Linked DNA regions of Homo sapiens. The protein of the gene in region 7 purifies or fractionates together with the protein of the main gene of each other region. This does not show direct contact. Each region holds a gene or a part of one and is shown on either strand. Other genes may lie near its edges.

Region 1 (3,500 bases), on a different chromosome or scaffold from region 7:
GAGACTCTTTTGCCTATGAAAAGAGGAGTGAAAAGTGGGAAGCACTTTGCCTTATGGTTTGGATGCCAGCTCAGCTGCAGGAGAATAGAGGACCAGATAGGGTTCTAAGGTTTCCAACTCCAGATGCTGGCTCCCAGATGGCATCTCTGGACCTGCCTGGGGCCCAGGGGAACTTGCTTGCTGTCCTGAAGGGATGGATAAAAGCCTGACTGGCTTTGCCACCTGCTCATTATAGAGCCCTAGAACTTTGAGCCAACACAGGAGGTAGCCAGGTAGGGGTTACACTGGGCCTTGGGTGAGATCCAGTGCTATGCTGGTTTCAGGTCTGGTCTAGTGTAGTTCCAGTGGTGGTAGCCACAAAAGTGCTTGTGTCACCACTCCCCCAACTACAAGAGGCTTGGAGCACAGAATCAGAGACTCGTTTGTTTGGGACAAAGTAAGGGAAGAGAACAAGAGTCTCTGCTTGGTAATCCAGAGAATTCTTCTAGACCTTATCTAAGACCACAAAGGTAGTACCTCTGCAAGTCTGTAAGAACCACAGCATTATCGGGCTTGGGGTGCCCCCTAATGTAGATATGGCTGCAATGACCAAAACTGGATCACAACAGCCAACTCCCTTCAAATATCTGGAAAGCCTTTCTAAGACAGGTACAAAAGAGTTCAGATTGTGAAGACTACGATAAATACCTTCAATGCCCAGACACCAATGAACACCCACAAGCATCAAGACCATCCAGGAAAACATGGCCTTGAAAAACAAACTAAATAAGGCACCAGGGACCAAATCCTGAAGAAACATAGATATGTGACCTTTCAGAGAGGGAATTCAAAAGAGCTATTTTGAGGAAATGCAAAGAAGTTCAAGATAACACAAAGAAGGAATTCAGAATCCTATCAGATAAAGTTAACAAAGAGGTTGAAACAATTAAAAGGAATCAAGCAGAAATTCTGGGGTTGAAAAATGCAGCTGACATACTGAGTCTCTTAATAGAAGTCATCAAGCAGAAGAAAGAATTGGTAAGCTTAAAGACAGGCTATTTGAAAATACACTGTCAACAGAGACAAAAGAAAAAAGAATGAAAAACAATGAAGCATGCCTATAAGATCTAAATAATAGTTTCAAAAGGGCAAATCTAACAGTTATTGGCCTTAAGAAGGAGGCAGAGAGAGATAGGAACAGAACGTTTATTCAAAGGGATGAAACAGAGAACATCCGAATTCTAGACAAAGATATCAATATTCAAGTACAAGAAAGTTATACATCAACCAGATTTAACCCAAAGAAGACTACCATTCAAGGCATTTAATAACCAAACTTCCAAAGGTCAAGGATAAAGAAAGGATCCTAAAAGCAGCAAAAGAAAAAATAAATAACATACCATGGAGCTCCAATATGTCTGACAGCAGACTTTTCAGTGGAAACATTACAGGCCAAAAGAGAGTGGTATGACATAAACTACTGAGGGAAAAAAAACTTTTACCCTAGAATAGTATATCCAGTGAAAACATCCTTCAAGCTTAAAGAAGAAATAAAGACTTTCCCAGACAAACAAAAGCTGAGAGATTTCATCAACATCAGACCTGTTCTACAAGAAATGCTAAGGGGAATCCTTCAATTTGAAGGAAAAAAGGTGTTAATGGGCAATTAAAAAATGATCTGAAGGTACCTCACTGGTCATACTAAGCATACAAAAAACCACATAATTTTATAACACTGTAATTGTGGTATGTAACCTATTGATATCTTAAGTAAAAGACTAAAAGATGAACCGATCAAAAATAACTACAACTTTTCAAGACATACTTGGTACCATAAGATATAAATAGAAATAACAGAAAGTTAAAAAGTTGGGGGGACAAAGTACAGAGTATTTATTAGACTTCTTTTTGATTGCATGTTTGTTTATGCAATCGGTGCCAAATTGTCATCAGTTTAAAATAACGAGCTATAAGTTATTTGCAAGCCTCATGATAATCTCAAATCAAAAAACATACAATGAATACACAAAAAATAAAAAGCAAGAAATTAAAACAAACCACCAGAGAAAATCACCTTCACTAAAAGGAAAATAGAAAGGAAGGAAAGAAGGAAGAGAAGACCACAAAATAACCAGAAAACAAATAACAAAATGGCAGGAGTAAGATCTTACTTATTATTAATAACACTAAATGTAAACAAACTGAATTCTCCAATCAAAAGACATAGAGTGGCTGAATAGCTAAGAAACACAAAATTCAATGATCTGTTACCTACAAGAAACATACTTCACCTATAAAGACACACAGACTAAAAATAAAGGGATGGAAAAAGATATTTCATGCCAATGAAAACCAAAAAAGAGCAGGAGTAGCTATACCTGTAATAGACAAAATAGATTTCAAGAAAAAAAAACTATAAAAAGGGACAAAGAAGGAGGTGAGGAGCGCCTCTGCCTGGCCGCCCCGTCTGGGAACTGAGGAGTGCCTCTGCCAGGCCGCCCCGTCTGAGAGGTGAGGAGCGCCTCTGCCTGGCAGCTGCCCCGTCTGGGAAGTGAGGAGCATCTCTGCCCAGCCGCCCCGTCTGGGAAATGGGGAGCGCCTCTGCCCGGCTGCCCCGTCTGGGAAGTGGGGAGCGCCTCTGCCCGGCCGCCCCGTCTGGGAGGTGAGGAGCGTCTCTGCCCGGCCGCCCATCGTCTGGGATGTGAGGAGCGCCTCTGCCCGGCCGCCCTTCGTCTGGGAGGTGAGGAGCGCCTCTGCCCGGCCGCCCCGTCTAGGAAGTGAGGAGCGCCTCTGCCCAGCTGCCCTGTCTGGGATGTGAGGAGCCACCTCTGCCCAGCTGCCCCATCTGGGAGGTGAGGAGAGTCTCTGCCTGGCCGCCCCGTCTGGGAAGTGAGGAGCGTCTCTGCCCGGCTGCCCTGTCTGGGAGGTGAGGAGTGCCTCTGCCCGGCCGCCCATCGTCTGGGAAGTGAGGAGCGCCTCTGCCCGGCCGCCCCGTCTGGGAGGTGAGGAGCGCCTCTGCCCGGCCGCCCCGTCTGGGAGGTGAGGAGCGCCTCTGCCCGGCCGCCCCGTCTGGGAGGTGAGAAGCGCCTCTGCCCGGCCGCCCCATCTGGGAAATGAGGAGCGCCTCTGCCCGGCTGCCCGTCGTCTGGGAAGTGGGGAACGCCTCTGCCCGGCCGCCCCATCTGGGAAGTGGGGAGCACCTCTGCCCGGCCACCCCGTCTGGGAAGTGTGGAGCGCCTCTGCCCGGCCACCCCGTCTGGGAAGTGTGGAGCACCTCTGCCCGGCCGCCCCGTCTGGGAAGTGGGGAGTGCCTCTGCCCGGCCGCCCCATCTGGGAAGTGGGGAGCGCCTCTGCCCGGCCGCCCCGTCTGGGAGGTGAGGAGCGCCTCTGCCCGGCCGCCCCGTCTGGGAAGTGAGGAGCGCCTCTGCCCGGCCGCCCCGTCTGGGAAGTGAGGAGTGCCTCTGCCTGGCTGCCCCATCTGGGAGGTGTACCCAACAGCTCCAAAGAGACAGCGACCATCG
Region 2 (3,500 bases), on a different chromosome or scaffold from region 7:
TGAGTGGTCTCTTCATTATAATAAATGTCTTTATAAATGGTTAGGATTTCATGGTAACTAAAATTGGTGGGTCAGTTTTAAGTTGTATTTATGCAGTTGAGGATTTTTAATCTATTAATTAAACAACTGTTTGAATTTACTTAAAAAAAAAAACTCAGTCAAGATGCTGTGCATTTTGCTAAAGCTGGGCTGGAGAAGTGGGGAGAGATACAAAGATGAGTATAAATGAAGGTTTTCTTTTAGCCTGTCAGAAAAGAGTAACTCTACTGATTGGTTGATTTTGATAGTTATCGGTAGTGTAGTTTTCCTTAGTTTCCTACTAGAACCCAAAGGGTGGCTGATGTCTTAAAAGTCCTAATCTTGTGGCCAGAAATTTATGAGCTTTTATTTACTCTTGGTCATCACTTTGTAATACATGAGAGTATACTCATTATACATTATACCACAATTTCTGTAACTTGGTTTTTGTCACCCCCGCCTTTTTTTTTTTTTTTTTTTTTTAAGAGACGTAGTCTTGCTTTGTTGCCCAGGCTGGAGTGCAGTAGCGTGATCTTGGCTTACTGCAGCCTCTGCCTCCCAGGTTCAAGCAATTCTCCTGCCTCAGCCTCCTGAGTAGCTGGGATTATAGGTGCCTGCCACCACATTTGGCTGGTTTTTATATTTTTAGTAGAGATGGGGTTTTACCATGTTGGTTAGGCTCTTCTTGAACTCCTGATGTCAAGTGATCCTCCCGCCTCAACCCCCCGAAGTGGTTGGGATTACAGGTGTGAGCCACTGTGCCCGGCGACATTTTTGACATTTTTTAAATGACATTTTTGATCAGGATTGTTTTTCATGTTACTTCCATCTTAAAGGCACTTCGCTGTCTAAGCTTCAATTCTTAGTTCTGCTTTTAAGTAGCTTTTTTTATTCCACACAAAAAGCAGAGGCTACTGAATATACAGCCTTCTTGGTGAGGATTATAAAGGGCTTTAGTTTGGGTGGTGATGTCTGTAGTAAGAATAAAAAGTTAAAATAAAAGGTAGCTGATGGTGGTGGTGTATACAGAGATTAGTAGGGTTTCTAAGAAAGAATAATAAAAATTTGTGAAATTGTTTCTATTTTTCTGATTTTTTTCAAAAAAGATAATTGTATTCATGGATTACTTGTGTAACTATTGTTACAATTTTTAAAAATAAAAGAATGATAATTAGGCATGATGAAGATTAAATCTTTTTTTTTTTTTTTTTTTTTGAGATGGAGTTTTTCTCTGTCACCCAGGCTAGAGTGCAGTGGTGCGATCTCGGCTCACTGCAACCCCTGCCTCCTGGATTCAAGCAATTCTTCTGCCTCAGCCTCCTGAGTAGCTGGGATTACAGTAGCCACCATGCCTGGCTAATTTTTTTGTACTTTTAGTAGAGACAGGTTTTCACCATCTTGGCCAGGCTGGTCTCGAACTCCTGACCTTGTGGTGCACCTGCCTCGGCCTCCCAAAGTGTTGGGATTACAGGTGTGAGCCACTGTGCCCGGCTGAAGATTAGATCTTTATGACTAATTGGATTTTTGGGTAAGGGATTCAGAACTTGATAGATGCTTCTTGACTTAAAGTGGGGCTATGTCATAAGTCAAATGAGTTTAATTCTCAGATAAACTCATCCTAAAGTTGAAAAATTGTAAGTTGGGCCACCTGTAATTGGGGACCATCTGTAATTGGGAGAATGCTAGTGACATTGAAATAATTAGTTATCAGTTAGACATAAATATGTACCTTTTGAAAATTTCCCATAGAAAATTTGAGTCATTATTGAAAATACATTTTCAAATTCTTTTGATTCATCAATAAGTTTGTTTGCAAAAGTTAATGACAGTGGCATAGAATTGAGTTTGTAGACCAAATTACATGGCATAGATATGTATTTAGACGAATATGACCTGAAAATGGCCCTTTTCTGACCTAATGGTGGGAATCAACTCTTGTTTGATGTTTCTTAAAAGATTCTACTTTATTAATTCTGCTTGTTTTAGTTACATCCAGAGCATTCCAGTTGTTAATGAAGAACACAGAGGTGATTTTTCCTATATTGGAAATTTGATGACAAAAGAATTCATAGGTCAACAATTGATTCTAATTATTAAGTCTTTGGATACCAGTGAAGAAGGAGGAAGGTATGTCTAAATGTTAACACTCATTCTAATTTGCCCTTCTAATTTCTTATATTGAAATATAGTCCTTTTACAATATAACTAAACATATTTACCCTAGCTCTCTAAAGTGGTATAAAAAGTTTTCTTTTCCCTTCTACATATTTCCATATATACACATACATTTATATTTCTAGTTCAATTTCCTCAGAATAAATCAATGAAATTGCAGTTTTTGGTTAAAAGTTTCTGTTTAGATTTATTAAGGCTAGTAGCATTTTCTAAAAGGTTTAATCATTTCTGGTATTTTGTCATTTTATCATGTTGATTTATTAAAAATCATAGGGTGTTTTATAAAAATTTTTTTTTGTGTGGAATAAGAATATTTGACCTAAAGTCTGTACATACAGATTTTTGTACCTATTATAGTGATAAACCTAAGTGAAAGAACTGAGGCAAATGTAATTAAGTTTGCAGAGTAGGTGAATGTTAGAGATAAAACATGTTTTGTCATAATAATATTTAAATTAGTTCTTTTTGACTGCAGAAAAAAACTGCTGGCTGTTTTACAGGAGATTCTTATTTTACCCACAATCCCAATATCCCTGGTTTCTTTTCTTGTTGAAAGACTACTCCACATCATTATAGATGATAATAAGAGAACACAAATTGTAAGTAATTTTCCTCATTGTTGATAAAGAGGTTTTGGTCAATGACATTGAATACTGTCTTATTTTCTGTTTAGAACTTTTTGTTTTGTCTGTTTTGTTTTAGGTTCGTCTCTTTAATGAGTTTTAAAATTTCTTAAAACCATTATCTATCTCTTACATACACAGAATATTTGAAAAATGTCACCTTCTTCCTCTTAGTGTACCTGTTATTGTTGAATCAGTTTGAAATGGAGCAGGTTTGGTAGGAAGTTACAAGTGGGGATATGGTTTTGTCCATGAGGCACTGGGTGCTAGTGTTTTTGAGAGCTTACTCAAATTGTACATACTAGGGTTTAGAATCTCATCTGACACTTTCTGGCTTTGTGGCTTTGGACAAGTTATTCTGCTGTTTTACTTGTCTGCAAATAAGAATAGCAATGAAATCTACCTTTCATTTTTCAATGAGGTATTGTTCATAAAGGTATTGTTCTGTATTGCTTGATAAATACAGAAATAATTGTTTACTATAATACTATTTCAGTGTTATTTTTTTCTGGCATAGCCAAAAAAGACAGATCTGTATCATTTATTTCATAAAAATCACATAATTTCAGTTGCAGGTTAATTCACAGATCATCTCTTCCATCCTCTCCTTATATATACACCCCTTCTACAACATGCTTAGTTGTTATTCAGCATCTGCTTAAATACTTTCATTTGGGAGGCAGC
Region 3 (3,500 bases), on a different chromosome or scaffold from region 7:
ACTGGAAACCATAACGAATGGCTAATTTGCTTACTACACAGAGATATAATAGAAATAAGAAAAAGACAGTAGGAAAATGGACAAAGGATATAAAATTGCTTACAAAAAAATGAATGGCCAAAACTATAAAAACATTTTCAGCAGTATTTCCAAATAAAAATACAGAAATCTAAAAGAGGTGATTTTTCACATGTCAGATTAGCAAATGTTGAAACATTTATAACCCATTATTGGCAAGAGTAAAAATTTAAAAAGGGTACTCATATATTGCTGGTGGGAACATAAATTGATGTAATGTTTATAGAAGGCAGTTTAGCACTACCAGAATTTAAATGAATGTGAGATTCTTTGATCCAGTTATTCTTTTTTTTTTTTCTTGAGACGGAGTCTCGCTCTGTTGTCCAGGCTGGAGTATTGGAGTGCAATGGTGCGATCTCGGCTCACTGCAGCCTCCACGTCCTGGGTTCAAGCGATTCTTCTGCCTCGGCCTCCCGAGTAGCAGGAACTACAGGTGTGCGCCACCACGCCCAGCTAATTTTTGTATTTTTAGTAGAGATGGGGTTTCATCATATTGATCAAGCTGGTCTTGAACTCCTGATGTCATGATCCACCCACCTCGGCCTCCCAAAGTGCTGGGATTACAGGCATGAGCCACCGTACCCAGCCCTGATCCAATTATTCTATTGCTAGTCATTTACTCCTTTTTTTTTTTTTTAAGCTCTGTTGAACTTAATAGACATTTACTCTTTAAATATACTTTTTTTTTTTTTTTTTTGAGACAGAGTCTCACTCTGTCACCCAGGCTGGAGTGCAGTGGCGCGGTCTTGGCTCACTGCAACCTCTGCCTCCCGGGTTCACACCATTCTCCTGCCTCAGCCTCCCGAGTAGCTGGGACTCCAGGCGCTCGCCACCATGCCCGGCTATTTTTTTGTATTTTTAGTAGAGATGGGGTTTCACCGTGTTAGCCAGGATGGTCTCCATCTCCTGACCTCATGATCCGCCTGCCTTGGCCTCCCAAAGTGTTGGGATTACAGGCGTGAGCCACTGCGCCCAGCCTAAATATAGTTTTTTTTAAAATAAAAGAGTTCAGTTTAAAAAATATATGTAAGAATGTTTATTGGCAGTATTTTTTTTTTTTTTTTTTGAAACAGAGTCTCGCTCTGTTGCCTAGGCTGGAGTGCTGTGGTATGATCTCAACTCACTGTAACCTCTGCCTCCCAAGTTCAAGTGATTCTCCTGCCTCAAACTCCTGAGCAAAGTAGCTGGGACTACAGGTGCGTTCCACCACACCGGCTAAGTTTTGTGTTTTTAGTAGAGACGGGGTTTCGCCATGTTGGCCAAGCTGGTCTCGAACTCCTGACCTCTAGTGATCCGCCCACCTCAGCCTCCCAAAGTGCTGGGATTACAGGCATGAGCCACCCTGCCTAGTCTTGCAGTATTTTTAATAGCAAACAAAATGAAAACAACTAATGTGTTTATCAGTAGGGAATTTATTAAATTGTGATAGTCATAAGATAATATTCTATGCAGCTATTAAAAAGAATGATGTAGATTTCTTTTTCCTAATATGGAAAGATTGCTTGATACTTTATGAAGTACAAAAAGCAAGGTGTACATCAGAATGTATATTATGACTTACTTGGCAAAGTGAAAGAAATAATAGATAAGCTTGTATATGTAAAAACATATTTCCTGGCCAGGTGCAGTGGCTCACGCCTGTAATCCCAGCATTTTGGGAGGCCAGTGTGGGTGGAACTGTTGAGGTCAGGAGTTCAAGACCAGCCTGGCCAACATGGTGAAACTCCATCTCTATTAAAAATACAAAAATTAGCTGGATGTAGTGGCACGCTCCTATAGTCCCAGTACTAGGGAGGCCAAGGCACTAGAATCGCTTGAACCCAGGAAGTGGTGTTTGCAGTGAGCTGAGATGGCACCACTATACTCCAGCCTGAGCGACAGAGCAAGACTCTTGTCTCCAAAAAAAAAGAAAATAATAATTTCCTGGAAGAAAATACAAAATGATGGTAACAGTTATGAGGTATGGAGCAGAATGTTTTGTTTTCCTTTGTTTCACCTTTATTTCTTTTGGTGCTCTTTTAATATTCTCCTCCATGTTTATGTGTTACTTTTGTTTTTTAAAAGGTCAACAGGGACTCTGGGAGACAAGATTTTGATTTTCTTCTTTATCTACATCTCTGAATTTATGAAAAGTAATGAAGTACTTTTAACAGTGGTACAAAAATAGTAGAAAATGTTTAAAGATTATTTTGTTCCTTATAATTCTCTTGATTCTGTTCTTTTTTGTTTAGGAATTAAATTTTTTGTGAGAGCTCCAAAATGATGAAATTTGAAAATAAGCTCTATTAAGTATACTACTAAGTAAAAAGAGCCTCTCAAGTTTTCTCCTAGACTATTTGAAGTTATTTTATCTCAGAATTTTTTTCTTCTTAATTCTGCCTCGTAAGACAGAGTACTAGGAGGTACAAAGGATAGTGATTTAATGGCACTGTTTCCCTAGCACTGAATTATTTTCACTTGAAAGAAGTTGGTCACTCTTCAGGAAAGTAATTTTAAAGTTATTTTTACCTTTGGTTAATTTGATTTCTTAAATAGCAGTTTTCTTGACAAATTTACAGTGTGATGACGATACATAACTGGTTCAGTGAGATGAAAATCCATAATTAGCTTCTGTTGAGACTGGATGTTGATTTATTACAGGATTATACACATGAATTCCATAAAACCAAAGCAAACTTTATGGCAATACGGGAAAGGGAGAATCTTATGGGATCAGTACGAAAAGATATTGAGTAAGTTACTTTTTATATTATTTTGTAGAATATTTATTCAGATTTGGCTTTAGGATATGTTCACGGTTAATTGCAAATTGAGTGGCAGAACCGTGGTTGAGATTTTAGGGTTTCCAATTCCCATTTCACTGTCTTTTTAACATTGCTGCTACAATGTCATCCTAATCTACTTTTCCATTTTTATCTCATGCTTCCTCTTACTTTATCATTGGCTCCTGCCAACCTTGACTTTCCTGTCTTAATTCAAAGTCCAGCTTAGGTGGTTCTTCATGGTTCTCTGATCTCTTACCTCCCACCCTAAGAATTATAATGTTACTTTTATGATCCTCTGCAGATGTGTCAAAGAAAAAAAAATTCTTTAATTGTAACATTATCAGTAACTGAAGCTCCCTATGTTTCTCTTCCTGATTATCACCTATCCCCTGGCCCTCTCCCTTGTCCCAACAGTTACATATTACAAACAGTAATATGTACAAACTCACTCATAGCCTTATGTTAAATTATTTAAGGACTCCCAACATTCTCATACTGATCTCAATCTATAATTTTAAATATTTGTTTTTTTCTTCTGTCCCTTCACCTCACCTTTAATGATCTATTCTAGCATTTCATAGCATTTTTGGAAATTTTTTTACAACTGAACACTACTGACAAAGTTAAGTCCCATGGGCGTCTCATTGAAGCTGAAGA
Region 4 (3,500 bases), on a different chromosome or scaffold from region 7:
TTATTCTCTGTAATTTCTATATGCTTAAAATATTTGTGAATAATTACTATTCTCCAAGAATGTTAAGAATCTTTTATTAAACCTTTTTTTATTCTTATTAATTTCAGCATCGGTATCAAGTCCCATTGTTGCAGGTGGTTTGAGAAACATACATGATAATAAAGTTTCTGGTCCGTTGTCTGGCAATTCAGCTAATCATCATGCTGATAATCCTAGACATGGTTCAAGTGAGGACTACCTACACATGGTGCACAGGCTAAGTAGTGACGTATGTAATATATTATCATTAAGGTGATAAAATAGTTCTAATATTTGTCATATAACCTAGTATTTCCATTTCAAAATTTGAATGATACCTACCGTATATCATTATACTGGGTACTGAGTACAACATGGCTCCTGCACATACAGAGCTTAGTCTAGAGCAGGATTGGTCAAGTGTGACCAGTAGCCTGAACCACAAAGTGAGAATGGTTTTTACATTTATAAAGAGTTATTTAAAAAAAAAAAAATGTGATAGAGACTGTATGTGGCCCACAGAGCCTAAAATATTTATTCTCTGTTCCTTTATAATGAAAAGTTGGCTGACCCCTGACCTTGAGGTTTAGGTTCTTAATGAAATATTTCAGTTTTAGGTTAATACTGCTCACACTAAAATTTTTTTTTTTTTAGATAATGAGCCTGTATTTATTAGTACTTGACTCTTTTTCCCTCTGATACTTGTACAAAGTTTTGTGTCTGAAATTTAATATTGCCTTGATGTTATTAAAATATTCCACATTCTGGAAATTTGCCTTGTTATTGATTTGATTGTAATTTATGTAAGCTGCATGTGTCTAAGGATAACACAGATGACAATAAACTCTGCCCTCAAGTCATTTACCACCTGGTAGAGTATTCATAGCTCCTTTTGTAGAAAAAAGCAAACAAAAATGGAGCATACTAGTAATACAAATTTTCTTATTCATTGCCATGCTTAGGCTGTTGATTCTTTTGGATACAATTTCAATTCTTCTAAGATATACCAAGAAGAAAACAGGAAAGTGCAGAAGAATTATGCTTTTGAATTCCAACACTTTACCTGTCAGTAATTTATGTCTCTTATTGGTTCTCTTTTAAGATTTCTATAAAGCCTCTCCTGTCATTCAAAAGATAAATTGTATACTCTATTTTTAGGATGGAGATTCTTCAACAATGAGGAATGCTGCATCTTTTCCCTTGAGATCTCCACAGCCAGTATGCTCCCCTGCTGGAAGTGAAGGAACTCCTAAAGGTACTACTGTAACTAAAATTTCCTTCTGTATATTTTATATTTGAAGTTGAATAAAGAACTCAGACTTCCTAAAGCAGATATTAAAAAGTTATTCTGTATTTTTTTTTCATTGTAGAAAAAAAAATAAACCTGTACAAGCAGGTCTGGATCATGGGATTTAAATCTGTCCCTATTCATTGATTCATTTATCTTCCACTTACCCAGTAATCTGTTGATAGTATTCTCGGATACATCCAGTATCCATTCTCTTTAATAAATCCAGTGGTCTTTTCAAACCACAACGTTCTTCTCTTAAACATTTGAAAATTTTGATCAGCTTTCCTCTTTCCTCCAAAAAGACTTATTTCATATGAGCCCATCTGTTTTTCTCCCACTTCTTTCATTGATACTTTTTTTCTTCATTAGCTCCTCTCCTTATTCTTATTCTTCTCAAGATTTCTATTATTAGACCTTTTATCACTCATTGTACTTTTTTCCCTGGCCGTTTTATTAAGTTTCATTAACAGCATTGATTATTTTCATGCATAAGACTCCTAAATCAATCTTTGGCTCCAGTCTTGTCTCCCAAGTTCTAATTCTTCATTTCCAGACAAAACTTCCTTCATACCTAGCGGATATTTCCAATTCATCTTCAAAATGGTTTTCACTGTTCTTTCTACCATCCCATCTGTCTTAATGCTATTCCAGTCCTGAATCATTGTAACTTAAAAATTTTAAGTTATCATAAAGCCTCTTTTCAACTATTTAGTCATTTATCAAATCTAACCTGTTCTGTTAATTTTTAAATCTCTCACGTCTACTTTTATCTCTGCCTTTTAAAATTCTTTTATTCCAGATCTAAGTTAAATGGGTGATCTTCCATGGGCCCTCCCCTAATCTCCTCAAGCTATTAGTTTATATTTTTTGTAAGAACTTTTACTACTTTATGCACACGAATTTCAGTTTATCTTTGAATTTTCAAAGAACCTTGCATGGTCTTCTATCTGTAACAGATTCACAAAATTGTGAATTTAAGTCCAGGTTTGAGCCAGTTTTTAAAATACTTAAAATTGTAGTCAAATAGCTTTAATTATCAGTTTGTTGGAAGAGAAAACTGTCTTCTACTTTTTAAAATTAGCTTATAATTAATTTTAACATAGCTGGTAATATATTCTCTCAAGTAATGAGAATTTCTAATTATAGCCATCTGAAACATAAAGATATTTTACCTCGTATCTGCTTCATATGGTAAAGATCTTTTTTTCACTGATTGTGTTCGTACTATTTATCAAGGACATTTTTCTTTTTTTTTTTCAAAAATTTTTTAAAAATTTTATTTTATTTTACTTTAAGTTCTGGGATACATGTGCAGAATGTGCAGGTTTGTTACATAGGTATACATGTGCCATAGTGATTTGCTGCACCTATCAACCCGTCATCTAGGTTTTTTTTCTTTCTTTCTTTTGAGACAGAGTCTCGCACTGTCACCCAGGCTGGAGTGCAGTGGCATGATCTCGGCTCACTGCAATCTCCACCTCCCGGGTTCAAACGATTCTCCTGCCTCAGCCTCCTGAGTAGCTGGGATTACAGGCACATGCCACCACGCCCGGGTGATTTTTTTTGTATTTTTAGTAGAGACAGGGTTTCACCATGTTGGTCAGGCTGGTCTCGAACTCCTGACCTCGTGATCTGCCCGCCTCGGCCTCCCAAAGTGCTGGGATTACAGGCGTGAGCCACCACACCAGGCTTGTCGTCTAGGTTTTAAGCCCCGCCTGCATTATGTATTTGTCCTAATGCTCTCCCACTTCTTGCCCCCTACCCTCCAACAGGCCCTGGTGTGTGATATTCCCCTCCCTGGGTCCATGTGTTTTCATTGTTCAGCTCCCACTTAAGAGTGAGAACCTGCGGTGTTTGGTTTTCTATCAAGGACATTTTTCATAGAGTGAAAGTTGAGCTGTTATGAGCCATTTCAATTCTGTAAATTGTATGAATTTTCAGGGATAAAAACCCGGCTTCTGAAAGAGAGAAAAACTTCCAGAGTAACTATTTGTAGGTTAGATACATATCCCACAAGTGTTGTCAAGGTGAGAAGTTATTTAGATTGCCGGGGAAAGAGAACAGGGAGATAGGTGATTGATCTAGATAACTAGCTTTTTTTCTTCTGACTCTTGAGATTAGATAGATAAATAGTAGATGAACTTTAGATAGAAATGGAAAACTTTAAAACAAATAACCTCACTAATATATT
Region 5 (3,500 bases), on a different chromosome or scaffold from region 7:
ACAGGGCTAACGGCACAGCAGGGGTACATGGTGCGGAGCCAGCACTGAGGTCGGGGACGATTTGCAAAGCTCACCAAGGAACCTGCAGCCCTGGCTGGATTTTTTGTGCCAGAGGCTGGGCACAGCACACTCCCCATTCTACCATCCCGGCCATTCCCCAGTTACGGCCCTCCCCCAGGTGCAAAAAACACAAGGCAGAAAACGAGGCAGCCTGCACAGAGGGAGACAGACTGCAGCCCCCAGACCAAAGAGAGAGCCAGCTGCCCAGACGCCACACCCTCAAGAGCACCGCAGGTGCCAGTCACAGAGCCCTGGCCTGCACCCCAGGCTCTCCTCAGCCCAGCCTAGCCTAGGCCCAGCGCCAGACCACTAGATGCCTCAGAGCCACAGTCAGGCCAGGTTAGTGAGGGGTCCACAGTGAGCAGGGTTTAGTGGGGAAGGGGATACTAACTAGAGTCAGAAGCAGTAGGTGATGTATGGGAGCTCCCGAGAAGCCCAACTCAGGATCCACCCCCCGTACCTTCTATGGGCCCCGCCTGAAAACCAGGTAAGAGCTCAGCCACCCCTGAGGTCCTCCCTGGAGGGACAAAAGAGAAACAGATTATGCTGGCCAGAGCCAGCCCAGGCTGTGCCACCCCCGAAAGCCCAGCTCCAGGCTGGCCAAGTGCAAGGTGTGCCCTGAAGCGGGAAGGGGCTGGGGGCTGAAGCCCTAGTGCATGGCTCCTACCCTCCACCCGCCCACATGTGGGTGCTTATAGGTAAGAAACTCCCATTGCATAATCCACCTGTGTTATGCCACGAGGGCTCCAATACAAATCCCAGGGGGTTCTGAGGGCTCTACCTCAGCTTGGGCACCCTAAGTTTCCCTCATTCATAGGTCTTAGCACCCCAAAGGGCTCCAACCACGGTGATAGGGATGTCCTGTTCCAGCAGGCACAGGGACCTAGGGCCCACGAAATAGGATCTCAGCTCTGTCGCCCAGTCTGGAGTGCAGGGGTGTGATCATGGCTCACTGCAGCTTCAACCTCGTGGGCTCAGGCGATCCTCCCACCTCAGCCTCTGGGGTAAGTAGCTAGGGCTACAGGCATGTGTCACCACACCTGGCTGAAATGGTTTAATTTTACTTTACAAATCTGAACACAAATTAACACAATATACAGGAATAAACTCTTTGTGACAACATAATCACACATTTTTTTTAAAACAGGAAGGGACCCATGAAGGCAAAAATACCCACATATGAAAGTCATATGCAGTCCTGGTTCTGGGACCCACAAGGTCTCCATCTCTACTCATGCACTGTCACATTCACGCATCTCAGAGCCGGTTCTTGTCTTCCCTCGAGTGCCCCTGGAGCTCTGAGCCCCACCAGTGTTGTGTCTGAGGGGCCTCCACAGGCCCAGCTCTGCACCCACGAAGCCCTCCCCAGAGCTCATGCACTTGGCACTATAGGCCCTCGCAACAGGACAGAGGCATGTCAGTCACAGCTCTCAAAGCGTGGTCCTGTCCACAAGGCCAAAAGAAGAAATTTTAGAATAACACTAAGATGTTATTTGCCTTTTTCACTTGTTCTCCCATGAATGTCCAGTAGAGTTTCCCAGGCTCCCTGATGCCATCATCGCCCTGATGCCTAATGGACTATATGCGTGTGTGTGTGTGTGTGTGTGTTTGTGTTTCTTGAGCCAGGGTCTCTGTCACTCATGCTAGAGTGCAGTAGCATAGTCACGGCTCACTGCAGCCTTGACCTCCTGGGTGCAAGCGATACTCCTGCCTCAGCCTCCCAAGAAGCTGGGCTCACAGGTGCATGCCACCATGCCTGGTTAATTTTAAAATTTTTTGTAGAGTCAGGGTCTTGCCATGTTGCCCAGTCTTCCTTGTGTATCTTGGGCTTGAAAAATCTCCCCATTTTAAGGCCGGGCAGTGGCTCATGCCTGTAATCCCAGCACTTTGGGAGGCCCAGGTGGGTGGATCACGAGGTCAGGAGATCGAGACCATCCTGGCTAACATGGTGAAACCCAGTCTCTACTAAAAATACAAAAAAAATTAGCCGGGTGTGGTGGCGGGTGCCTGTAGTCCCAGCTACCTGGGAGGCTGAGGCAGGAGAATGGCGTGAACCCAGGAGGTGAAGCTTGCAGTGAGCCGAGATCGAGCCACTGCACTCCAGCCTGGGCGACAGAACGAGACTCCATCTCAAAAAAAAAAAAAAAAAAGGAAAATCTCCCCATTTTAATTCCTAATATGTTAAGCAACAGATAGACATAAAACCCACAGAAACAAACAAAAGCTCTTGGAGACCCTCGATAATGTTTTAGAGTGTAAATAGACCTGGAGACTAATTTTGGGAACTGCTGATGCAAATGGTGCATTTTACCGAAGAACAGGCAGAGGTTCCTGGGTCACTGGTGCACGTGTTCCATCCCCCACACATGAACTCTGTCTTGCAGCCCAAGTACCCCCCAGTCACGTGCTCATTCACACATGTGAAGATGGCAGTGTACAGCCCAGCGGCATCACTCATGCAGAGCACATGTCATACAAGACTCCATGTGTTGGCTTACAGCAGGGCACCTGGCCGATGGCAACATCCCCCTAACACAAGGAGGCCTCCCAGCCACACGGACACCCCGCCCTGCCCCTGGGTGTCTGGAATCGGCTTCGTTTCAGCTGCACTCAAACTTACACAGTGTGTGTGCCATGCAGCGCCATCCCAGCAGGGCACACGGCAAAACCGCTGTGCTTTGGCGAGGGACTCGGGTGAGATGAGGCCTTGGGGATGTAGCAAGAGGTGGGTCGATTTTGCACACCATCAACTGTCCTCATTCACTGCCCATGGACTCTGACCACGTCTGGATTTTTTTTTTTTTTGGACAGAGTCTCACTCTGTCGCCCAGGCTGGAGTGCAGTGGCTTGATCTTGGCTTACTGCATCCTCTGCCTCCCAGGTTCAAGCAATCCTCATGCCTCAGCCTTCTGAGTAACTGGGATTACAGGCATGTGCACCACCACGCCTGGCTTTTATATTTTTTATAGAGACGGGATTTTGCCACGTTGGCCAGGCTAGTCTCGAACTCCTGGCCTCAAGTGATCCACCCGCCTCGGCCTCCCAAAGTGCTGGGATTACAGGCATGAACTACCGCACCCGGACCCCAAGTCTGGATTTTTTTTAAAAATGAGACTTTGAAAAGGCAGAGTCTCCAATTGTCTCCACTCTTCTCTTAGTTTGGCTTGGGTGATTGGAGGCACTGTGGGCCAGTGGTCCCTGCCTGGGGTGCAGGGCACAGGGGAGCCTAAGTGACTGGCAGAGCCTGGGGGAGAGCAGAGCAGGCGACAGAGCCCAGAGGGTAAGCTGGAGGGCAGAGGGCGGACACAGGGGAGGGCAGACAGAACAGAAGCGGACAAAAGGAAGGGCCATGCCTCCCCCTTCCCAGGCCCACTCACCAAGGACGATGAGCTCTGCGTAGGCCTCATTGTTCCCCTGGAGGTCCTGGGCTGAGACCACGG
Region 6 (3,500 bases), on a different chromosome or scaffold from region 7:
ATTTATTTGTTTATTTTTGAGATGGGGTTTTGCTCTTGTCACCCAGGCTGGAATGCGATGGTACGATCTTGGCTCACGCAACCTCTACCTCCTGGGTTCAAGTGATTCTCCTGCCTCAGCCTCCTGAGTAGCTGGGATGACAGGGGCCACACACCTGGCTAATTTTTGTACTTTTAGTAGAGATGGGATTTCATTAGCTGGTCTCGAACTCCTGACCTCAGGTGATCCACCCGGCTCAGCCTCCCAAAGTGCTGGGATCACAGGCATGAGCCACCACGCCCAGCCAGTAAAAATTTATTTACAAAAACAGGTGGTGGGCTGTACTTGGCCACGGGCCATAGTCTGCCAACCCCTGCTTTAAATGACTCTAGCTCCCAGCCTTCAAGTCTTCCGGCTGAGGGCCCAGACTTTCTGGAATAAAGACAAGCTGTTCCTGCTGTGCCCCTGTCTGAATTCCTGCCTCACAAAAACTGTGACAGATAATACATAATTATTGTTGTTTTAAGCCACTAAGTTTTGGGGTAATTTGACATGCAGAATAACCAGCTCATACATACACAAACCCTGTGTGTATGCATTAGTTCACTCATTCCTTCATTTGTCTGTGTGTTCATTTCACAGGCATTCAACAAGAACCCATCGTGCGCTGAATACAAGGGATGGGGGATGACAAGACACAGTTCCTGGCACCACAGAGCTCAGAGACTGTCACTGAGGTAATCCCAGCTCACTGTGAGAGGCGTCAAAAGGAAGAAGGAGGGAGGTTCCTGGAGCCAAGAAGAGACACCTAACCCTGTGGGGGTGTGGGCAAGAGGAGAGGTCTGAGCTGTGTCTGCTGGGTGTTGGGAGGAGTAACATTTCAGGTAGAAGGAAGAGGTGGACAGCCCCATGAGAGTGGCTAGGAGAAGGGGCAGGTACGTGGTATGGTAAACCTGGGGTCGGCCTCCAGGAAGGCTCAGGTGCAGGCACTTCATCTCCCCACAGATGTCTGGTGAGGCATCTCCCACTGCTAACATGCCCCTCTTTCATGTGGAGGCGTCAGAGCGTGCGCCAGACACTGGCCACCCTGTGGCAGAGACGTGGGCTCTGGGAGGTCCTCAGCCCATATTCAGAGGCCTTGACTGAAGACAAGGCAGTGGCTAAGTGGCTTTGCCACCTAAGAGGGTCCTGGCCTGGGGCACCTGTCCAGCTGCAGGATATGGGGGCTCCCCAGTCATTCCAACCAAAGTGGATGAGCACAGGGAGAAGGGCAGAAAGGAAGAAAAGGAGCAGGAACAAGTGCATGCGGCCCAGGAACTTCAGTGGCGACCCTGAGACCTGCAGAACAGACCCACAGGCCTGCTAGGTCTGGGCTGGGGGCACACAGGCCATAGGAGTGCCCTACCTGGGGTCTGGTAGTTGAGCCTCCGCATCTCCACAGGGTCAGAGGAGTGGGCCAGCAAGGAGTCCTTCAGTCCGATCGACTGCTCATCCTTAGAGGACGGAGAGTGGGTCCTTTTCCTAGAGAGACAGAAGGGAGGCTGGTGAGAACCTGAGGTCCAGGCTGAGACAGTGACACATGGCATGGCTGGCTGCCAAGGAGCCCCCATGTCCACGGCTCTGTCCTCCTACTGCCCCACCTCTTCCCAGGATCTCTGAGCGCGGAGGAGCCAGGGCCAGAACAGCCTTGACATGAGAGAACACAGGGCAGGGAGGGGGTAGGGAGAGCAGGAGTGTGGCGTGAGCAGAGGGGCAGTGCAGCAGGGAGGAAGGGGTTGCAGGGGCGAGCAGCTCCTTTGGATAGAAGGCAGGTCACTGCAGGACAGTGACTGCTATCTCCAAGGCCACCCAGCTGAGTAGCAGGAACCACCGGGAACAAACATGCAAATGACACATAAAATACACAAACAGCACAGGAGACAGGGCCCCAGCTTTTTGGCCCTCAGAGTATCAGGGTAAATGCCCAGGGCAGCAGGGGAGGGACGGGAAAGGCGTCACCCTAGCTGGGCAGAGTCCTCTCTCACTGGCCTCAGTTTTCCCATCTACAAGGACAGGGTCAGAGACAGACCATAGGATTCAGCTGCCAACAAATAGCCAGAGGCTACTTGTGGTCTGCAGACGCATGTGCTTCGGAAAGAAGAATTTGAGTGAGTGTGCTCAGGTGGGTACAAGGACATGCCTCTCTGCTGTTCCACACAGTGACTGCTCTTTGCTCTGTGCGAGACTGTCTCTCGCAGCACTTAGGCAACTTCTCAGAGAACTGGGAGCCGGGTGATGGTTCTGGTGAGCTCTGTACGCTCAGGGAAAGCAATGCAGTCTGTATTATGTATGTGCCCCAGAGAAGAAGCATCCTCTGCAGAGTTGAACTGGCAAGAGTGAGACAGAAACTGCCTCCTCACACCAATGAGGACTCAGTCCTGAACCAGGGAGCCTGCTGAGCTGACTGGACAGTTTGCTGCTTAAAGCCATAGGCCAGGGGACTTCTGGTCAAAGCGTCATCCCTCCCTGCTGGCCCAAGGATTAGAAGTAGAGGGGGAGGTGTGTGAAGAGAGAAGGAACAACTCCTACCTTTCTTGTTTACTAGGTCCCGAAAGACAAGCAAGGACAGAAGAAAGGAACGGTCACAGTTTCCACCAAGCACTCAGCCCTCTAATGACATGGGGACCCTGCAGGCCCCTTATATGGCACCCACATGACATTCACAGGGAGGGGGTCTACCTCTCTGGACAGACCCAGAATGCAGGTGGAAGTGGGAAGGATGAGTGCATCTGTGGGACACTCCTTAGGGACCCGCCCACAGGTCCATCCACCCTGGGAGGAAGGAGTGGACTCTTTAGGAAGGAACAGTGGGTCCAGGGTAGGCACACAGGATACAGGCTCTCCTGCATGGTGCAGAGATGTGCTCAGACACACAGACTAGCATATCTTCATCTGCCAGGTGCTCACTGACATGCCTGTGGGCTCAGCCCAGTGCTGGGGGCTGAAGGCTTGGCACACAGGCCCAGCTGCGTTTGCAGTGGAGCATCACAGGGGACAGCTGTGCAAGGAAGGGGTAGGGGCCAGGCAAGGCCTTGCAGGCACCAGAGCATGGACTTGAGTCCTGAACGATGAGATTGCTGTTGCCAAGTGGGCAGGGGGAGGGAGATCCGCAGAGGGCACACCCTGTGTGGGCCTGAACACTGAATGAGTTCAGTGTCGCAATGTCAGGAGTGTGGCAGGGGTCAGATTAGCCAGGTGTTTGGCTGTCAGGCTAAAGAGGGTGGGCTTTACGTGGGCAGCCATCAAAAGGTTTTAAACTGAGAGTGACAAAGTTAAATCTTTGGAAATCCCTTTCAGGCTGGAAGGTGCACGGATAGGAAGGGAGACTCCTAGGGCAGGTGGTGGCCACTGCCGATAGAGAACTGAGTGGGAAAGACACACTGAGGCTGAGGCCGCTGCGGATGGCACGGGCACAGCAGGCCATCAGTCATGTCTGTTAGTGAGCATCCATGGCCTGTGGGCCTCCAGCTCGACCTCTCTAG
Region 7 (3,500 bases):
GGGCCGTTCCATTTATGAAGGTGAGGGTGGGGCAGATTCTGACTGTTCAACACAAATGGTTTTGCAGTGTCTTCTAACTGTTGCCTTTGGTACTCTAATTAGGAAAGGAAAAGTTCCTTAGCATCCATAGCCCGATACTGGGTCTGTCCATCAAACTATCTTCTTAGGAGATGGCCTCTTCTTTGCTGGTTAAACTCAATTTCCCCAAAAGGGCATCTAAATAGACACTATGGGACAAAAGTATTCCACAGCTGAAGAATTTTTGGAAATGCATTAAGGTTAAATGTGATGATTCCTGCAGAGCATACTGACATTTTTAATCTGCTAATTTACATTGTAAATTTCCAAAAGGAGGGTCTAGAACGCACCTTTTACAAAACTTAACTTTTTTTTTTTTTTTGAGATGGAGCCTTACTCTGTCGCCAGGCTGGGGTGCAGTGGCGCGATCTCGGCTTACTGCAAGCTCCGCCTCGTGGATCCAAGCAATTCTTCTGCCTCCGCCTCCCAGGTAGCTGGGATTACAGGTACCCACCACCATGCCCAGCTAATTTTTGTATTTTAAGTAGAGATAGGGTTTCACCATGTTGGGCAGGCTGGTCTCAAACTCCTGACCTCAAGTGATCCACCCGCCTCGGCCTCCCAAAGTGCTGGGATTACAGGTGTGAGCCACCGTGCCTGGTCACAAAACTTAACTTCCTACAGAACTCTGTTTCCATGAAGGACTCCTTGGGATTAAGAGTCTGAGACTTTGGGAAATGCTTGTCTAGTTGACCATTTTGAATATAATCATACTTATAGCAACTATTAAATTTCCCACTGTCTCTGGAATAGCAAAGACTACTTTTTAAAATAATGAAAACAGGAACATTAAATAAGAATTTGAAAAAAGAGTAATCACCCATAATCCCAGCTTTCTAACCAAAAATTATTTCCATGCTTGCATATTTGCTTCCAGTAGCTTAGGAGCACAGTGTAGAGCACTGGAGTCAGACACTTGAGTTCAAAGCAAAATGCCAGGCCGGGCGGGGGGGCTCACGCCTGTCATCCCAGCACATTGGGAGGCCGAGGCGGGCGGATCACGAGGTCAGGAGATCGAGACCATCCTGACTAACACGGTGAAACCCCGTCTCTACTAAAAAATATACAAAAAATTAGCCGGGTGTGGTGGCGGGCGCCTGTAGTCCCAGCTACTCGGGAGGCTGAGGCAGGAGAATGGCGTGAACCTGGGAGGCGGAGCTTGTAGTGAGCTGAGATCACACCACTGCACTCCAGCCTGGGGGACAGAGCGAGACTCTGTCTCTTAAAAAAAAAAAACAAAAAACCAAACCAAACAAACAAACAAACAAAAACAAAGTAAAATGCCACTTACTAATAGCTCTATGGCCATAGACAGGTTACTTATCCTCTCCTTAAGCTTCTTAGCAAAGCACCTGGCGTGTAGTATTTGTTCAATAAAAAGTAGCTTTAAGGCCGGGCGCAGTGATTCACGCCTGTAATCCCAGCCCTTCAGGAGGCCGAGGCAGGAGGATCGCTTGAGCTGGAGCGTTTGAGATCAGCCTGGGCAACGAAGTCAGACTCTGTCTCTACAAAAATTGAAAGTTAGCCCAGGCATGGTGGTGTGTGCCTGCAGTCCCAGCTACTCGAGAGGATGAGGTGGGAGGATCACTTGAGCCCAGAGCTCGAGCTGCCGTGAGCCGTGATTTTAAAATTAAAAAAAAAAAATTGATTCAATCATTCTTCTAGAATAATAGCTTTTTTTTCTCTCTCTCTTTTTTTTAAATTGAGACAGGGTTTCGGTCTGTTGCCCAGGCTGAGGCTGGTGGTGCAATCATAGCTCACTGCAACCTCGACCTCCTGGGGTTGCAGCATGGGCCACCGTGACTGGCCTGAAATAGTTTTCTTAGCATTTAATTTTAAGTTCGAGACCAGCCTGGGCAACATGGAGAAACTCCACCTCTACAAAAAAATACAAAAATTAGCTGGGCTTGGTGGCATGTGCCTGTGGTCCCCAGCTACTAGGGAGGCTGAGGTGGGAGGATCACCTGAGCCCAGCAGGTGGAGGGTTGGGGTAAGCCGAGATCGCACCACTGCACTCCAGCCTGAGTGACACAGTGAGACCCTGTCTCAAAAAAAAAAAAAAAAAGAAAAATTAAGGAACAACAAAGTTTACAAATGAAGCGAGGAAGGAGTTTCGCCACAGCCTCCCAGAGGCACTTCTTCCTGCTTCTCCTATTTCTGGCTGTGCCGTCACCATTGCCCAGAACCAGCACTTACACGCCTAGGTCTTTCCTAGATTGCCTGCTCTTTCTTTGAACTGCCTGTTTCCCAACCCTTCCTCTTCTTTCCCTGCCACTGCCCTGCCTCAGACTCTTTTCCCGCATGGCAGGCCGGGGCAACGACCTCTCATTTACATCCCTGCCTATTTTTTGCTGTTGTTGAGACGGAGTCTTGTTCTGTCACCCAGGCTGGAGTGCAATGGTGAGATCTCGGCTCACTGCAACCTCTGCCTCCCGGGTTCAAGCGATTCTCCTGCCTCAGCCTCCTGAGTAGCTGGGATTACAGGCACGCGCCACCACACCTGGCTAATTTTTGTATTTTCAGTAGAGACAGGATTTCACCACATTGGCCAGGCTGATCTTGAACTCTTGACCGCAGATGATCCGCCTGCCTCGGCCTCCCAAAGTGCTGGGATTACAGGCATGAGCCACGGTGTCCGGCCGCATCCCTGCTTCTTAAGCCTCTTCCTCTGCAGTCCATCCTGATTACTAACGAATGGCCGAGAAGCACGACTTTCATCCAGCCACTCCCAGCCTCAGAGCCTTCACGAGCTCCTTCTCGCTGCGGGATAAAGCACAGCTCCTCCGCCAGCCCGGCGCGCAGCGGGCCTCACCTCTCCTGCCCGGCCCTCTCAATTGTCCCCTGCTCTTCCACCAGGATCCTTGAATCCTGCCAGACCTCGCTCCCCTGGGCCTGGGGCGTCCCCGAACTCATCCTCGCAGCTTCCCTGTCCCAGGAGGGCCCGCTGGCCAAATCCTCCCCACTCTGCCTGCGGCGAGGCTTGCTGGACTAGCAGACTCAGAATGGCCTGTTCTGAACAGCCTTGGGGTTTCCGTTTGCACATTCTGAAGCAAAGCAATGTGAGAACCGTTTTCATTGCGTGAGGCAAGGTTTCTCAACCTGAGCACTATTGACACTTTGGCCTGAATAATCTTTTCTGTGGGGGCTCTTCCCGTGCCCTGTAGGAAGTTTAGCAGCTTTCCTGGCCTCTGACCACGAGATGCCAGTAGCACCTTCCAGTGTGGCAACCGGAAGTCTCCCGACACTGCCAAATATTCCCTGGGGGGACAGCTGCTGTGTAAGGGAAGGCTTGTACCACCAGCTGCACTCTCTCAACAGGAGGTTCACTGGAACTAGATGTAGCAGCCACCTACTGCCACTAACCACAGAGTGGCCACCAGGCATCTCCGGACACTGGCAGTTGGCAACCGCTCTGGTTCAGA

What was found.
Region 1: the proteins of SLC51A (region 7) and FUT8 purify together in Homo sapiens (affinity purification with mass spectrometry; one large-scale study listed by BioGRID and IntAct). This does not show direct contact.
Region 2: the proteins of SLC51A (region 7) and NCAPG purify together in Homo sapiens (affinity purification with mass spectrometry; one large-scale study listed by BioGRID and IntAct). This does not show direct contact.
Region 3: the proteins of SLC51A (region 7) and GOSR1 purify together in Homo sapiens (affinity purification with mass spectrometry; one large-scale study listed by BioGRID and IntAct). This does not show direct contact.
Region 4: the proteins of SLC51A (region 7) and NIPBL purify together in Homo sapiens (affinity purification with mass spectrometry; one large-scale study listed by BioGRID and IntAct). This does not show direct contact.
Region 5: the proteins of SLC51A (region 7) and LSR purify together in Homo sapiens (affinity purification with mass spectrometry; one large-scale study listed by BioGRID and IntAct). This does not show direct contact.
Region 6: the proteins of SLC51A (region 7) and PTPRF purify together in Homo sapiens (affinity purification with mass spectrometry; one large-scale study listed by BioGRID and IntAct). This does not show direct contact.

What each region holds. Positions count from the first base shown.
Region 1 is NC_000014.9:65,716,730-65,720,229, reverse strand, and holds part of FUT8 (alpha-(1,6)-fucosyltransferase), read right to left. Parts: intron 1-3,500. UniProt on the Homo sapiens protein: Catalyzes the addition of fucose in alpha 1-6 linkage to the first GlcNAc residue, next to the peptide chains in N-glycans.
Region 2 is NC_000004.12:17,820,979-17,824,478, forward strand, and holds part of NCAPG (condensin complex subunit 3), read left to right. Parts: intron 1-2,004; coding exon 2,005-2,145; intron 2,146-2,668; coding exon 2,669-2,792; intron 2,793-3,500. UniProt on the Homo sapiens protein: Regulatory subunit of the condensin complex, a complex required for conversion of interphase chromatin into mitotic-like condense chromosomes.
Region 3 is NC_000017.11:30,487,408-30,490,907, forward strand, and holds part of GOSR1 (Golgi SNAP receptor complex member 1), read left to right. Parts: intron 1-2,718; coding exon 2,719-2,810; intron 2,811-3,500. UniProt on the Homo sapiens protein: Involved in transport from the ER to the Golgi apparatus as well as in intra-Golgi transport. It belongs to a super-family of proteins called t-SNAREs or soluble NSF (N-ethylmaleimide-sensitive factor) attachment protein receptor.
Region 4 is NC_000005.10:36,970,769-36,974,268, forward strand, and holds part of NIPBL (nipped-B-like protein), read left to right. Parts: intron 1-107; coding exon 108-268; exon of another isoform or gene 269-972; coding exon of another isoform or gene 973-1,083; intron 1,084-1,176; coding exon 1,177-1,273; intron 1,274-3,500. UniProt on the Homo sapiens protein: Plays an important role in the loading of the cohesin complex on to DNA. Forms a heterodimeric complex (also known as cohesin loading complex) with MAU2/SCC4 which mediates the loading of the cohesin complex onto chromatin.
Region 5 is NC_000019.10:35,259,002-35,262,501, reverse strand, and holds part of LSR (lipolysis-stimulated lipoprotein receptor isoform 2 precursor), read right to left. Parts: coding exon 3,438-3,500; intron 3,432-3,437; exon of another isoform or gene 2,681-3,431; intron 1,504-2,680; exon of another isoform or gene 1,100-1,503; intron 578-1,099; coding exon 521-577; intron 1-520. UniProt on the Homo sapiens protein: Probable role in the clearance of triglyceride-rich lipoprotein from blood. Binds chylomicrons, LDL and VLDL in presence of free fatty acids and allows their subsequent uptake in the cells.
Region 6 is NC_000001.11:43,607,383-43,610,882, reverse strand, and holds part of PTPRF (receptor-type tyrosine-protein phosphatase F isoform 1 precursor), read right to left. Parts: intron 2,560-3,500; coding exon of another isoform or gene 2,548-2,559; intron 1,501-2,547; coding exon 1,385-1,500; intron 1-1,384. UniProt on the Homo sapiens protein: Possible cell adhesion receptor. It possesses an intrinsic protein tyrosine phosphatase activity (PTPase) and dephosphorylates EPHA2 regulating its activity.
Region 7 is NC_000003.12:196,219,534-196,223,033, reverse strand, and holds part of SLC51A (organic solute transporter subunit alpha), read right to left. Parts: exon of another isoform or gene 2,643-3,500; intron 1-2,642. UniProt on the Homo sapiens protein: Essential component of the Ost-alpha/Ost-beta complex, a heterodimer that acts as the intestinal basolateral transporter responsible for bile acid export from enterocytes into portal blood. Efficiently transports the major species of bile acids (taurocholate).